Linked DNA regions of Homo sapiens. The protein of the gene in region 1 purifies or fractionates together with the protein of each later gene. This does not show direct contact. Each region holds a gene or a part of one and is shown in the gene's direction. Other genes may lie near its edges.

Region 1 (7,793 bases):
TGAAATCCTGTCTCTACCAAAAATACAAAAACAAAACAAAACAAAAATAGCTGAAAGTGGTGGCATGCATTTGAGGTCTCAGCTACTTGGAAGGCTGAGGCAGGAGGATCCCCTGAGCCCGTAGGCGGAGCTTGCAGCAAGCCAAGACTGTGCTACTGCACTCTAGCCTGGGCAACAGAGTTGAGACCCTCATCTCAAAAAAAAAAAAAGAAAGAAAGAAAACTGCGTATTAATGAACAAAGTAGACTTTAAAACAAGGAGTATTGCCAGCAAAAAGGATATTTCAAAATGATAAAAGCGTCAAATTATCAACAGTAGTCCTAAATATTTGTGCACTTTCTAATTTGAAAATACCTGAAGCTTTCTTTTATTGATTGAATGAAACAGCAGAAAGGAAGAAACACTTCCAAACTTTCTTTGAGGCCAAGATAACCCTGATAAGAAAACATATCAAGAATATTACAAGGGCTGGGTGCAGTGGCTCACGCCTATAATCCCAACACTTTGGGAGGCCAGGGTGGGCGAGCCTATCACTTGAGGCCATAATTTCAAGACCAGCCTGGCCAACATGGTGAAACCCCATCTCTACTAAAAATACAAAAATTAGTTAGGAGTGGTGGCACATGCTTGTAATGACAGCTGTTTAGGAGGCTGAGGCAGGAGGATTGCTTGAACCCAGGATGCGGAGGTTGCAATAAGCTGAGATTGCACCGCTACACTCCAGCCTGAGCAACAGAGGGAGACTCCGTCTCAAAAAAAAAAAAAAAGAAAAGGAAAAAAGTGTATCAAGAGTAAGCCTTTTTGAGATACCATGTGAACAAAGACTTGGAGTTAACATATACTGCAGCCAAGGATGGAGAGGCCATCAATTGACAGGAAAAACTGCAAGCAAAGCAGATTTTGGAACAAAGATTTGAAATTGTTTGCAGTATGTTCACTTTGAAGTGTCTGCTGGAGATTGCTTGGATCTAGGAATGTAGAGTTCAGGAGTGAACTATAGGCTAGAGACAGAAATTTGGAAATTGGCAGCATTAAAGCCACACAACTACAAGATTGAATGAGATCACCAAGAGAATAATTATAGAGAAGATAACCAAATGCGTCCATATACGAGGCCGTCATAAAATTGGTTCTTTTTCAGCTTCCGCATTTATACACAAGCATACTTGATGTTTTAGCCATATCAAACTGACTGATTTTCGGACTACATCACTGCTGTTTTGTTCATGTTTTATTAGACTGCATCTCTTGCCCTTCCACAGGATAAGCTAGTCGTTCTTCAAAATGTTTCCCATTGTCACCTTCATTCTAGTATTATTTTTGTACTATATGTACATACACTGTTAGTAGCACATTGTATATACCTGTCTTTCCTACCAGATGTAAACACCTTTGCATTCCAGATGCATAACACATAGATACTCAAATATTTATTGAAATATAATTGATTTATGCTTTAGGCAACTCTATTATGTTCATAAGAACTTTAGAAAAATTTAGATTGACAGAATTTTTTAAATCTCCATTAGGTTAGTTTTTTAATAGAGAATTTGGACTTTTAACTTAATTTTTTATAGGTTATTCTAACTAAAACCTTTTTGGTTGTTTACATTCAAGTAATGTTATTTTCTTGACATGTCTACATATCCCTTATGCTTATGCCTTTTTTTTTTTTTAACTCCGTGTTCCTTGCTAACTTATATTTACAAGTTGATTATAGTACTTTGATATATTTAGAAAATCCATGTCTTAAAATAATTTGGAGCTAAGTGATCAGGATTACAGAAGTATTCCATTTCAGTCAGACATATCATGTTAATGAGAGTTAAACTATATTTGAAGCTCAGTTTTGCTGACAAGGTTACATTAAGTGAACATTTTGAAATTTTTCTAGCATATTTGTTTCTTGCAAAAATCAAATTAATTTCTCAAAAACAGCTTAATTTTTCCAACAGCTACCAAACAATACTTAAATCTCAAATTTGTTTAAAGCGTGTATATACATATATATAACGCGCATAGAAAAATATTGGAAGACTATCAGCAAACTTATTTCTGGCCATATTATTGCAGGATATTTTCCCTTTCTACGTCATTTCTATGGTGTGCTTTAAAAAAAAAAAAGGCATGTATTTTTTTAATTAGTTAGGGGAAGATTAAGCTGCCTATTTCCTAATGGTTCAATATTGTTTTCTCTATTTAGGCTTTATCTGGCCACCCTAATGGAAACTTTTTTTAGTAGTTAACTTTTATTAGACTCATTGTAGCACAGTGCACTATAACCACTTTTTCTTCTTGTATGAAGTCAAGAAATACCTGGTATTATTCTTTGAAAACTGTAAGTATGCTTGAAGCCTAGTTACTACCTACAAATGATTCCTAAAGTTTTAAAAACCTCAAGTTCTTTCATTTATACTTTAGAAGCTTGACTTTGTAGGTTCTTAAGTTACTATTATTGTTGATACTTCAACTTCATAATGTAATTTTAAATCACTTTTTAAATACTAAGACTTTTTTTTAAATGAGATGCTCTAAATTAATACAAACTGTATATAAAAAAATTACTACACCCAACTTGTGGCACTATGGTAAGTTAAACAGGAGACAGTGTAGGTAAGATGTGATCCCTGTCAGCTACTGCATTTTTAAAGGATCCTATATTTTGGCCAGGCACAGTGGCTCACGCCTGTAGGCCCAGCACTTTGGTAGGCCAAGGTGGGCGGATCACTTGAGCTCAGGAACTGTAGACCAGCCTGGGCAACATGGTGAAACCCTGTCTCTACAAAAAATTCAAAAATCAGCTGGGCGTGGTGGCATGTGCCTTCCTCAGCTACTCGTTAGGCTGAGGTGGGAAGATCACTTGAGCCTGAGAAGCGGAGGCTGCTGTGACCTGTAATTATGCCTGGGCAACAGAGCAACCCTGTCTCAAAAAAAGAAAAATAAAGGATTCTATAGTTTACAGGATAACAGTATCCACAGATTTTTCTTTCTTTCTTTCTTTTTTTTTTTTTTGAGGCGGAGTCTTGCTCTCTCGCCCAGGCTGGAGTACAGTGGTGCGATCTTGGCTCACTGCAACCTCTGCCTCCTGGGTTCCAGTGATTCTTCTGCCTCAGCCTCCCGGGTAGCTGTGACTACAGGCACGTGCCACCACACCGGGCTAATTTTTGTATTTTTAGTAGAGACAGAGTTTCACCATATTGGCCAGGCTGGTCTCAAACTCTTGACCTTATGATCTGCCCACCTTGGCCTCCCAATTTTTTTTTTTTTTTATGTGAATGGTAGATAGTGGGGAAAGTGAGCCCAGTAGATTTTAGTCAGAAAAGTGTTATGAAGAGGGGGAGTTCTGTGAATGAGATGTAATCTACTTAAAGAAAACATGAATTTCATACAGGGAATTCATTATAGTTGTCAAATACTTGGGATGAGAAAAGACTATACTTAAGTGACTAGAAGTTGGAAGAGACTATAACAAGAAAATGTCTATTTTTTTATTTTTACTTTTTTAAACTTCCTATGGTGCTGAGGGGTTTTTTAAATATATAAATCTCTTACCCTTTTACTAACATGTTTGTTTATTTAATCTGTGTGGTTGCTAAGAAACTATGTTCAGATTTTAGGAAGACATACAAGACATGAAAAGATCATTGGTTGCAACAAATAATACAGATTAGTGGTATAAAAAATAATCAAGGCAGGAAGGATAAAGTTCCAAATGAGCTAAGCCTTTCAAAACTGCTAAGTATGACAGAAACGATGCTTTATGCTGTCTTTTGTGTTCTTCATACAGACTACTTAAATAGGGGGTAAAAGTCTCTTGTTTTTGCCTCTAACTCCTTACCAAGTAGAATGTTCTCCAAACTGGGCATTATAGAGTAATACATCTTAGAGAACTTTGTACTATAAGATAAAATATTACATCATATTCCTCTCCAGATAAATCAAATTTAGAAATTTCTTTTTTTATCTGTAATTATTGCTGTTTTTTGTTTTGTTTTTGAGACAGTCTGTCACCCAGGCTGGAATGCAATGGTACACAATCATAGCTTACTGCAGCCTCGACCTTCCAGGCTCAAGCAGTCCTCTCACTTCAGCCTTCTAAGTAGCTGGGACCATAGGTGCACGCCACCACACCTGGTTAAGTTTTTTTAAAAAAATTTCTTACAAAGTTTTGCTATATGCCCAGGTTGGTCTTGAACTCCAGGGCTCAAAGGATCCTCTCACCCCGGTCTCCCAAAGTGCTGGGATTACAGGCCTTCATGCCCAGCTGTTTTTTTTTGTTTCTGTTTTTGTTTTTTTGCATTTTAATCTAAATTTTAACATTTCAAAATACAGTTTTTAAAATTACAATTTCTACTACAAATTAAAATCCTTTCAAGCATGTTTTTGTATATGTTAACAAAAGTCCGTTGTTAAATATAGTTGAAATGTGCTTTTTCTCTACAAAACACAATATGCTACAACATCTTTTTGGGCAAATAATACGGATGGAGCAAAAAAATTGTAGAATGCTGTCAGGTTTGCCTTATCACATTTGATCCACCTTTAACAGTATTGAAGTTCACTTCAGCTATTAAAAATTCTTTGTTTACAGCTCTGCAGGCAGAATACCTTTGATACTTTGTTAGAAATTGGAACTGAAAATTTTTCGCTTTAATCTTTTCCATGGACCCAATTGTTTTGATTACAAGTGGTTTCTTAGGAATGCTCCTTTTATTAGTCCTTTCTCATGCTGCTAATAAAGACATACCCGAGACTGGGTAATTTATAAAGGAAAGAGGTTTAATTGACTCACAGTTGCGCAGGGATAGGGAGGTCTCAGGAAACCTATAAACATGGTGGAAGGGGAAGCAAACACATCATTCTTCACATGGTGGCAGGAAGGAGAAATGAGAGCGAAGTGAAGGAAAGCCTCCTTATAAAACCATCAGATCTTGTGAGAACTCACTATCACGAGAACAGCATGAGGGCAACCGCCCCCATGATTCGCCGGGTCCCTCTCACAACATGGGAATTATGGGAACTACAAGATGAAATTTGGATGGGGACACAGCCAAACCATATCACTCCTGTTGCTTTCTTAATGGATAGTTTTCATCCTGGGGTGATTTTCAAGATGGTGGATTCCTTTGTTTCGTTTCCAGCAACTCTGGTTCTGAAAATGGGGTATGTGTATCCAGGAATGTGAATTTTGCATATCACCTCTGTGACTCTGATGTAGGTAGTTCATAGACCACGGTTTTCATGAATAGAATGTGCATGGTATTGCATACCTCCATTGTTTTCTTAGAATAAATTACTAGAAGTAATAAGATACTTGGGCAAAGGAACTGTAATTTTACCAGAAATAGGTGTATCTAAATTTTTCTGAACTATGAACTACAAGGAAAATTTTGACACTTGCAGAATGTTATTCTGGCCTTTGTAGTAGTCGTTGTGTACCATATTTGTCCCTGAATGTATGTAATTATATGAAAGCTATGAGTAGAATTTGTATTGAATGACTGTCAAAATTTGCTTATAAATGATAATTTGCTTATAAATCAACTCTGAAAGAGTTGGATTTATCAATCATGTAAAAAAGACTTGGTACCCCTTTCATATGTTCATATTAACAAATGGGGCTAATTATGTTTTATTGAGTACATTTTGATTTGTTCCAGTAGCCGGATCGAGCTGGGAGATGTGACACCACACAATATTAAACAGTTGAAAAGATTGAATCAGGTCATCTTTCCAGTCAGCTACAATGACAAGTTCTACAAGGATGTGCTGGAGGTTGGCGAGCTAGCAAAACTTGGTATAATATAGTTTTTTTTTTGTCCTCCCTTCTTTTCTTTCTTTTTGTTCTTGAACCCTAGTTTTTTATAGAGCAGAAGAAGTTAACTAATTTAGTTTGTTTATTTTATAAGTGAGGAAATGGGAGTGGTCTAGGTTGTGAGAAAAATCTCAGAGAAATCAGTTGAATAAAACAGTTGAATTTTAAAAAGAAATGCTTAGTGTTCTTAGTGTATACCTGTGTGTTTTCACTTTAAGCTATACTCTAGAGGAGGCTTAAACTTCCTAAGATGGCATAAGAGCTTTGAGATCATTGATATTCATGAAATAGTTGATGAAATTTAATGTTGATAGGAACAGTGTAGTCCTTTAAAAGGGAAAAAGATTAAATGTGTTATTCTGTCTGTTCAACATTATATCTTTATGTTTTCCTTGGCAGCCTATTTCAATGATATTGCTGTAGGTGCAGTATGCTGTAGGGTGGATCATTCACAGAATCAGAAGAGACTTTACATCATGACACTAGGATGTCTGGCACCTTACCGAAGGCTAGGAATAGGTAAAAAATTGTGGTTTTTTTACTTCTTCAGAGAAGCATAAACATATTATTTGTTAATGTGTCTGACCTAGTAAGTTAATTTGGGTCTTTTTAAGGAATACTGAGAAAGGGTTACTGAATTATGTAAAATATGGTGAAAAATAACTAGTGTTTATTAACATAATTCTATTGGAAGCCCTACATAGATTTGCTGTTTACGTCCCCTTCTGCTTTTTCTGTTTTTCTTCTACCCGGAAGTGCTTGTTTAAAAAGGTTAGTCTTCTGCTAACAGTTTTAAACATACGTAGCTATTGTAGAGAGAGAACACAACTTTGGAAAATAAGGATATCTAGTGTATACCTCATAAATTCTTTTAGGACTCAATAAGTAGTTCAGATGGCAAGTGGATAGATACATAATTTAAAGGTTGATTTATGAAGTCACGTGTTTGTTATTTATTTTATTAACAGGAACTAAAATGTTAAATCATGTCTTAAACATCTGTGAAAAAGATGGTACTTTTGACAACATTTATCTGTAAGTAAAATAATATTTAATGTTCTTATCAAAGGGGTTTAATTGGCAGGAGAAATCTTTACTAGAAACTTTAAAATCTGGTCACTTATTGTGCCTTTGGAAACACTGTGGAAGTAGTTGTTACAAAGTATTCGAGTAGTTGTTAGTTTTGTTTAGTTTTGTTTTATTAATAATAGTAGATTAGGAACCTGAGATAGAACACATTGCTTTATTATATTAGGATGAGAGCACCAAAGTCACAGGGATGAAATCAGGATTAAAACTCAGGCCTTCAGAATTCAAGACTATTAATACTACTTTTCTCATGCAAAACCTTGTGTGTTTTGTTCAAGGCTATGTTGATAGCTTTGAACATTGTAGTAGATCATTTGTAGTAGAGTTTAATAATCAAAATCAGAGATTACCTAGCTGAGATTGTACTTGAATCTCAAGAGGCTGTAGATAAAGAGTTATGACTAAGATCACAGTCATGGATGTTCATAATTTAGTTTGGCCATGTGAGAGATTGAATTATACAGTGTTATTTTGGGAGTAATTGAGAAAGCTTGCGTTTTTAATTTTTAAAACATACCATGTATTTTATCAATCAGAAGGAAGATATATCTTCAAGCTTTGAGACCCTAGTTTTTTATTTTTCATCATTTTTTTTCTGTGTGTTAATAGGGCCTTTTAATAATTTATCCTCTTACAGTGAAAAAATTTTGATAGCTGTGGTACTTTTCCCTTTGTTGACTACAAGAATAAACACTGAGCCTTCTAATCTCAGCCAGCTGTCTTACAAATGTAAAAATTAGATTAAAAGTGTAAAATTGTCATCAAAAGGTTTTAGGTAAGCATGCCTAACCCTTGTTGATTACTGGTAGTTGTAAAGAGAATGTAACAGATGTTTGGAGCTATCTGTGGAGAATGCTTAAAACTTGATGAAACCTTAATTTTAATTTTT
Region 2 (8,675 bases), on another chromosome or scaffold:
CGCGGTGGCTCACGCCTGTAATCCCAGCACTTTGGGAGGCCGAGGTGGGCAGATTACGAGGTCAGGAGATCGAGACCATCCTGGCTAACACGGTGAAACCCCGTCTCTACTAAAAATACAAAAAAAATTAGCCGGGCGTGGTGGCGGGCGCCTGTAGTCCCAGCTACTCCGGAGGCTGAGACAGGAGAACGGCGTGAACCCGGGAGGCGGAGCTTGCAATGAGCCGAGATCGCGCCACTGCACTCCAGCCTGGGACACGGAGTGAGACTCCGTCTCAAAAAAAAAAAAAGGAAAGAAAGAAGAGCCAAGAACATGGAAGAGAGCAGAAACATCAGGGAGTCTGGGGTGGAACACGTTGTATAACCTGATAAGTTATTTTCCCATCAGCTTTTAATTACATAGTTAAATTGGCTGTGGGAATAGCAGCAAACTATTTGATTTTAGGTTGCCAGCTGGCTCTGGAAGACATGCACGTATATGGGGTGGAGAAAATCCTTTTCCAGATTCTTCTCTCCTTGTCTTTACTAGGCTGAACGAGAAGAATCAGTGGCCCATATTACATATGTAAAAAGGGCTTTGGGAATTGCAAAGGTCTTTACAGATGTGGTTACTGTTATTTTACTTTATGCATGATTCTAAAGGAGGTATGCACCGTCTGAAGTGCCAGGAAGGAGCATCTGGGTGGATGTCCATGATGGCCCCAAAAGGACTTCAGCATTTTTCCTGAGAAACAGTGAGTTCAGATTTACACAGTATTTGTTTTTTATCACAGGCTTTGAAATGACTAAGCATTAAATTCACATAACCCTGCTGTGAAACACATTATCATGTTATTATAACCCCATTTTCTGTTGAAAGGTAGAAATAAGATCTGTTCCAGACTAAACAGGAAGTCAGTAATAAGATTATAGTTACTGGTTAATCTAGGCTTTCTGATTGTGCATACATTACATCTTTTATACACATAAGGTTCAGGATGACAACTACCAGCACCGTGATTGGTGTTCTTTTCTATTCCCTCCCTCTCCCCTCACCCCCACACTAGTGTAGACAACCAAGGTGATATGGTTTGGATTTGTGCCCCCCCCACCCCAATCTCATCTTGAATCGTAACCCCCAGTGTTGGAGGAGGGGCCTGGTAGGAGGTGACTGGATCATGGGGACAGATTTTCCCCTTGCTGTTCTCATGATAGTGAGTGAGTTCTCACGATCTAGTTGTTTAAAAGTGTGTAGCACCGCTGGGCATTGTGGCTCATGCCTGTAATCCCAGCACTTTGGGAGGCTGAGGCGGGTGGATCACAAGGTCAAGAGTTCAAAACCAGCCTGGCCAACATGGTGAAACCCCATCTCTACTAAAAATACAAAAATTAGCTGGGCATGGCGGTGCATGCCTGTGGTCCCAGCTACTCAGGAGGCTGAGGCAGGAGGATTGCTTGAACCCAGGAGGTTGCAGTGACTGAGATCATGCCAGTGCACTCCAGCCTGGGTGGCAGATGAGGCTCCATCTCAAAAAAAAAAAAAGTGTGTAGCACCTCCTCTTTCACTCTATTCCTCCTGCTCCAGCCATGTAGGATGTGCCTGCTTCCCGTTTGCCTTCCACCATGATTGTAAGTTTCCTGAGGCCTCCCCAGCCATGCTTCCTGTATAGCCTGTGGAACTGTGAGCCAATTAAACTTCTTTTCTTTATAAATTACCCAGTCTCAGGTAATTTTTTATAGCAATGTGAGAACAGACTAATACAAAAGGTATGTGTGTATGGTGTGTGAAAGACAGATGAAGAAGATATTAAATATGAGTATTTATAACTATATATAACTATAGTTTATAACTAGTAGCAAACTAGTGCTGCTTTCTAGTATTTGGGATTGCAGATTTTCTTTGCGTGACTGCGCTTCCCTGGGAGATGCTGGCACGGAACTGTGTGTCCTGGGAAGTGGAAGTTGGCAGTGGGTCGGAGGCTGCAGAGTGCACGTGAAGAACCTTCCTGGGCTGCTGATTTAGGGGTTGGGGAGAGCAATGGTGAATGAGGGTGATGATTTAGCTGCTACCACAGAGAGTGAAGATAGTTAATGATTTGTAGTAAATAAGGCTGGAAGAGGCCCACAGGAAACTTTCATAAAAGATAATCGTTCCTTGTCTTCAAAATATTTACAGTTGGTACTATGCTTTTCTTCCCTTCTCTTGTATATTTCTTTTAAAAATCTAATTTGTCATTTTGAAATAGGTCTAGAAAAGTCCATGTCCTATGAGGGTCAAGTGAGGGCTTGACTGACGCACTGAAGGTTTGGCTCTTTTCGTGAGTAACCCTTCACTTCTGATGATGTAGATAAATGACAATGTAGATAAATTGGGAGCCAAAGGTTTTCAGGAATTAGTAATGCCGTGGTAAGCAAACTGTGGCTAGCAATTATGGCAGTGGTTGAGTATGAGGGTGCTGAGAGGAGGCACTTCTGTGTGCTTGCTCAGTTCTCCGGGTGGGGGACTGCCACTAGTACAGGTGCGACTAAGGCAAGCTCCTAAAGCATCTATACTTGCCTACTTCCTAACAGCTTGGGCAGCTTGGGAGCTCTGCAGAGTACACATAGGCCCTTGAACCCCCACTTTTATTTTTTTCTTTCCATTTTTTATTTTAGACTCAAGGGGTAAATGTTCAGGTTTATTACACAGGTAAATTGCATGTTGTGGGGGTTTGGTGTACAGACAGTCTTGTCACCCAGGTAATCAGCATAATACCCTATAGGTAGTTTTTTAATCTTCACCCTCCTCCTACTCTCCACCCTCAAGTAGGCCTCAGTGTCTACTGTTCCCTTATTTGTGTCCATGGGTACTCAGTGTTTATAATTCCACCTGTAAGTGAAAACATGTGGTATTTGATTTTCTGTTCCTGCATTAATTCATTTTGGATAATGGCCTCCAGCTCTACCTGTGTTGCTGCAAAGGACATGGTCTCATTCTTTTTTGTGGCTGTGTAGTATTCCATGGTGTACCACATTTTCTTTATCCAGTCCACCGATGGGCATCTAGGTTACTTCCATGTCTTTTTATTGTGAATAGTGCTGCGATGAACATACACGTGCATGTGTCCTTTTTTTTTTTGAGGCAGTTTGTTGCCCAGGCTGGAGTGCAGTGGCATGATCTTGGCTCACTGCAACCTGTCTCCCAGGCTCAATTGATCCTCGCACCTCAGCATCCCAAGTAGCTGGGACTACAGGCACTCGCCACTATGCCCAGCTAGTGTGTGTGTGTGTGTGTGTGTGTGTGTGTGTGTGTGTGTGTTTGCCATGTTGCCCCGGCTGGTCTCCAACTCCTGAGCTCAGGGTGATCCGCCTGCCTCAGCCGCCCAAAGTGCTGGGATTACAGGCGTGAGTCACTGCACCTGGCTGTGCATGTGTCTTTACGGTAGAACAATTTATATTCTTTTGGGTATATACCCAGCAATGGGATTGCTGTGGACCCCCAATTTTAATGACAGTACTTTCCCTATTTTAAAGGACTCCTATGATGCTTTAAAATCATGTGTGAAACGTAGGAGATTGAAAGAAAAAAAAAGACTCCTATGATTCTTTCATGTCCAACCAACTTAGGCTAGAAAGAAGGAAAATCAAATAGGCAGGCACTGTGGCTCACACCTGTAATCCCAGCACTTTGGAAGGCCGAGGTGGGCAGATCACCTGAGGTCGGGAGTTTGAGACCAGCCTGACCAACATGGAGAAACCCCGTCTCTACTAAAAATACTAAATTAGCCAGGTGTGGTGGTGCATGCCTGTCATCCCTGCTACTTGGGAGGCTGAGGCAGGAGAATCGCTTGAACCTGGGAGGCGGAGGTTACAGGGAGCTGAGATAGCGCCATTGCATTCCAGCCTCGGCAACAAGAACAAAACATCGTCTCAAAAAAAGGAAAATAAAAAAGGGCAGCCCAGTTCTGATTACAGCCGACTAAATGCAGTTACTCATCAATTACTTTATAGTCTCAGAAATATGCACCCATTAAGATTCAGCACATGTATAAATAAACTTATGTACCTAATGTTTACACACACCTTACTACTAACCCTACACTGAATGTATGGTTTATTCTTGCCACTGTTGTATCTTTCTAGACTCACACATTACCATCAATATGCTGCCTTTTATTTGTTGTAGAGAGTATCCCAGAGTTGGAAGATCCTGAATTTGAAGCCTGTTTCTCCCATTATTATATGGCTTTCAGGAAGGGGAACCATCTGAAGAGAAAGGGTAGGTAGACTCAGAAGACCAGTGGCCTTATAAAACCGTAATTCCGGCCAGGTGTGGTGGCTCACGCCTGTAATCCCAGCACTTTCGGAGGTTGACGCGGGGGCGGATCACGAGGTCAAGAGATCAAGACCATCCTGGCCAACATGGTGAAAGCCTGTCTCTACTAAAAATACAAAATTAGCCGGGTGTGGTGGCGCATGCCTGTAATCCCAGCCACTCGGGAGGCTGAGGCAGGAGAATCCTTTGAACTCAGGAGGCGGAGGTTGCAGTGAGCCCAGATAGCGCCACTGCACTGCAGCCTGGGCGACAAGAGCGATACTCCATCTCAAAACCAACCAACCAAACAAAAACAAAGATTGTAAATGTTTGTTTGGTTTGCCCTGGAAAGAGAAGGCTTCTACTTAGAGTCTGAATCAAGGAGGAAAAGGAAAGAAAACAAGTTCATCTTTCATCAAAAGTCTACTTTGCATCGGACACTTAAATTCCTAAATGGGGAGAAATGCAAAAAACTCTGACTCTTCAGAGTCATAACTAACATTATCTTGCGCCACAAGCTTATCAAGAGTGCAATACAAGTCAGTGTCTTCTCTTTTCTACTTAAAAGAAAATTCTCGTTTTTATTTATTACTTTATTGCAAGGAGAAGCAGACAATAAGTAGGAGTCTTATGAGGCGTTCTGATGCATAGGAGCAATGGTGAATGAGGGTGGTGACTCACCACCCCATGGGACTCCAAGGTTTTGGTGACAGCTCGCCTGAGCCCCAGGGGGTGCCGAGATTGCGGCGAGGAGAGCCGCAGCACAAGGCAAATCCACGCGGTTGGTCCCCGCTACGCCCCCGTAGTCACCCGCAGCCCCTCGCCAAAGGGCGCTCCGCGCATGCGCACAGGATCCGGCTCGGGAGGCGGACCCTGGCTGCCATCTTGCAGTGCGCGGGAACCGCCGCCGCCGCCGCTGGCCAAAAAGCGGAGCCCAGGGGAAGCGTGTCCTGCTCAGACCGCCTTCCTTCTCCATTGCCACCCGTGCCGAACAGCCAGGCTGCCCAATTGCAACTGTAGACCAATGAACTAATCCATCGCCCGCAGCCCGACTCTCAGCAGCGGTTCGTCCCGGTGCCCACCCCCGCGAAGCGGAGCGCCCGGGCACCTAGCCTCCCTGCCGGCCACCTAGCCTCCCTGCCGGCCACGATGCCGAACGTGCTGCTGCCGCCCAAGGAGAGCAACCTCTTCAAACGCATCTTGGTGAGTGGCCGTAGGCCGCGCTGCCGCCCCCCGGTCCCCGGGTCCTCGGGCCTTAAGGGCAAGCGGTCTGGCGGCGGCCGGCGCGGGCCAGGCTTGGCCTCCGCTGCCCACCGCTCTTTGTTTACCTCGGAGGTCGCGGGACCCCACTTTCCCGCTCCGGCCGGCCCACGGGGGCTGCCGAGCCGCTCCTCCGTGCGCTTCCTTTCCGCGGTCTTCTGCGGCTCGCCTCACCCCCGCCGCGCTCTTTCCAGAAACTTCACGCCGCTCTCCGCAGTGCCCGGGCACAGCCGCCTCGGCCGGTAGTGGCTGCCGTGCTCTCTGCCGCGCCGGGCTCGCAGCAGCCCCTCAGGGATCCTCCCCCGGTGGTTTATTTTGCCAGTCTCTCCTCGGCTAGGTGTTTTGCGTTCTGCATTCTCTGCTTTGCGTTTAGTTAGATTGCACAGCACACCCGCATACCTATTAAAGCGGGATCGATGCGATGGTGGAATTTTTCCTGGTTACGAGGAAATAAAACCGGCAACTTTAGGAAGCCAGGCCTGGCACCACCTCCCTTTGGGAAAAAGTTTGCCTGTTTGTAATGTACCTTATTTACCTCTTTGGAAGTGAATATTTGACTTGAAGTGCGTTTCTGAGTTGTCACCAACTTCAAAACAGCTGTTTGCTTTTTAGTCGCACAGGCCTTGCTTGAGTAATTAAAGCCGCGTGGACTGGCTGGTTTTGCATTTGAGGGGAGCATTTTTACTTTATCGCGGAGCAGAAGCCTGAATAATGGCCCCGTAGTGATGACCGCTGCGGAGCCGGGTGGGCAGTTTTCTGTGGGCTGTGTGCCAGCGTCCCTGGTAGCTTTCCAGGTTCTGTTCTTCCAAGGAGAAGAGGCAGCATTCCTTTGCTTTCCTCAGTATCCTCTGGCTACCCTAGGTTTTAAACTAATATTGTTAGTAGGTAACTGTCTTTTCTAGTTTATCTTTTCACCTGAAAAAAAGCTTTTATTTGCTAAACATGCATTTAGGTTTAAAGGTGAATTTATTGAAAGCTGGGTTGGCTATATGGCTGTTAGTTGTTGCTTAACTTTACTATAAATAAAATACTAATTTTAGAGTAATTTTAAGTATGAACAGCGGCAGATAATTCATAGTAGCTGTTCTGTTTCAAGACGATAGAAACTTCACACTTAGTCTTCAGATTAGGATACATAGTAGATGGGATAAAAATTTTAAATATTATGTGGTGCTTAGTTTTGAACCAATAATAAGATACAAATGTGAGAACATTAAAAATACGAATAATTAAAGCACGTGGCAGGTTGCTTCATTGGGCTTTGTATTTTTTTATTTTACTTCTCATGCCCTTTTATTTTACACAGCATGGAATTGGAGAAGTAATTTATTTATTTTTATTTTTAATTTTTTTTTGCCCTGGGAATCTGAAACATTAATGATAATATCATTTATAAATCGCTAGTTGGATTTCAGGACATTTGGCATCATACTTTAAAGATGACAGCACTTCTTTTCTCTTTATACGAGTTTTTTGTAGTTCAAATCATGGATCAGTGTCATAAGGAAAAAGTTACATTATTATTCTTAAATTACAAAAAAGGTAGGGTTTATCCCCAAATAAATTGGGAAATGGTAACCACTAAAAAAAAATCAATTATTTTGAGATGGAAGTCTCGGTTTGTTGGCCAGGCTACTGTCGAATTCCTGGCTTGAAGCGATCTTCCCACCTCAGCCTCCCAAATTGCTGGGATTACAGATGTGAGCTACTGTGCTCAGCCAAGCTAAACATTTTTAAATCTAGGTATGTAATGTTTCTGACAAGGTTGCGTGAATTTAGGAGGATTCTGCATAAACGAATGATTTTATCATTTCACAATTGCAATAAATGTGGGTAAAATTTGGCTACAACAAATTCCATAGCAAACAGAAGTCTCTGTAATAAAATTATCTTTAAAGTTTAGTGGATTAAAGTGCTTTGCCACCAACAGTAAAATTTTTTCTATTGAAAAAATTCAAACACATCCACACAAACTGACCAGCTGGTTTTTTACGTGTTCCACGTGGCTTGTATCTGCATGTCTTATTCCCCAGACTGGATATTAATTAGCATTACAGTTTGTTGAATTTTGGAGGTATTCCATGCCCTCTTTTAGAAAGAGACAAACCTAAAGATGGTAAATGACCAAGTGGCTAAGGTTCTCTGTCTGGTTAGTAGCAAAGTTGAGACTAGAATCTATCATTTCTGCTTAGTATATAATGGTTCCTGAGTGAATGTAGATTTGTCTTTTTTTTTTTTTTGCGAGAGTGTATCGCTTTGTCGCCCAGGCTGGAGTGCAGTGGCAAGATCTCACTGCAACCTCTGCCTCCCAGATTCAAGCGATTCTCGTGCCTCAGCCTCCTGAGTAGCTGAGATTACAGGTTGACTTGTCTTTACCCGAGTACTTGGACTCTGGGGACAGACTACCTGGTTAAGAGTTGTGGCTCTGGCACTTAATAGTTATATAAACTCTATAACTATGCCTCAGTTTCTCTATCTAAATGGGGATATCATGCATCTCATAGGCTTTCCTGGGATTTAAATAAAGAGTAAATAAGCTGTCATGGGATGAAGGAAAAAAATAACAGTGTCTGGACGTATAGTAAATGCTTCCAATAGGTGTTAACTATTATTACTGTTATTGGCAGTATGATTATTATTATTTTCAGATAACCTGGTAAGTCAGAAAAACTAGTATTTCTATTTGTCTTTCTCAGTAGTTCCTTTCTCTTGTTTTTTTCTTGTCATTTGTGAGACAGACTTGTAGTCAAACTCAGATTGTCATTTTTTATTTTAAAATATTTTTGGAATAGGCAGTATATTCACATGGTTCAAAATTTAGGTTTCTCTCCTATCCTTATCGCAGAATCACCTAGTTCCCTTCCCCAGAGGCTGTCAAGAGGCCTCAATATAAACTTTTTTTCCATGAAGACTTTTCTAATTCCTTCCACATCCAGCCCCTGCTGCAAGGCTTAAAGATGGTCTCATCCATTGCTAGTGGCATTTTGCTTTGAACTTAGTAGGCTGTATTTATGGAGCAGTTTCTTATTTGTTTAGCCATGGCAATGCAGCAGTATGTAAAATAGGCTAAGGCCGGCGCAGTGGCTCATGCCTGTAATCCCAGCACTTTGGGAGGCTGAGGTGGGAGCTAGGATCACTTGAGC

What was found.
Region 2: the proteins of NAA50 (region 1) and NAA16 purify together in Homo sapiens (co-immunoprecipitation; 2 studies listed by BioGRID and IntAct, with this or other methods). This does not show direct contact.

Annotation. Positions count from the first base shown.
Region 1 is NC_000003.12:113,721,963-113,729,755, reverse strand, and holds part of NAA50 (N-alpha-acetyltransferase 50), read left to right. Parts: intron 1-5,660; coding exon 5,661-5,797; intron 5,798-6,214; coding exon 6,215-6,334; intron 6,335-6,783; coding exon 6,784-6,850; intron 6,851-7,793. UniProt on the Homo sapiens protein: N-alpha-acetyltransferase that acetylates the N-terminus of proteins that retain their initiating methionine. Has a broad substrate specificity: able to acetylate the initiator methionine of most peptides, except for those with a proline in second position.
Region 2 is NC_000013.11:41,306,108-41,314,782, forward strand, and holds the start of NAA16 (N-alpha-acetyltransferase 16, NatA auxiliary subunit), read left to right. Parts: upstream 1-5,159; 5' UTR 5,160-5,421; coding exon 5,422-5,475; intron 5,476-5,600; exon of another isoform or gene 5,601-5,931; intron 5,932-8,675. UniProt on the Homo sapiens protein: Auxillary subunit of the N-terminal acetyltransferase A (NatA) complex which displays alpha (N-terminal) acetyltransferase activity.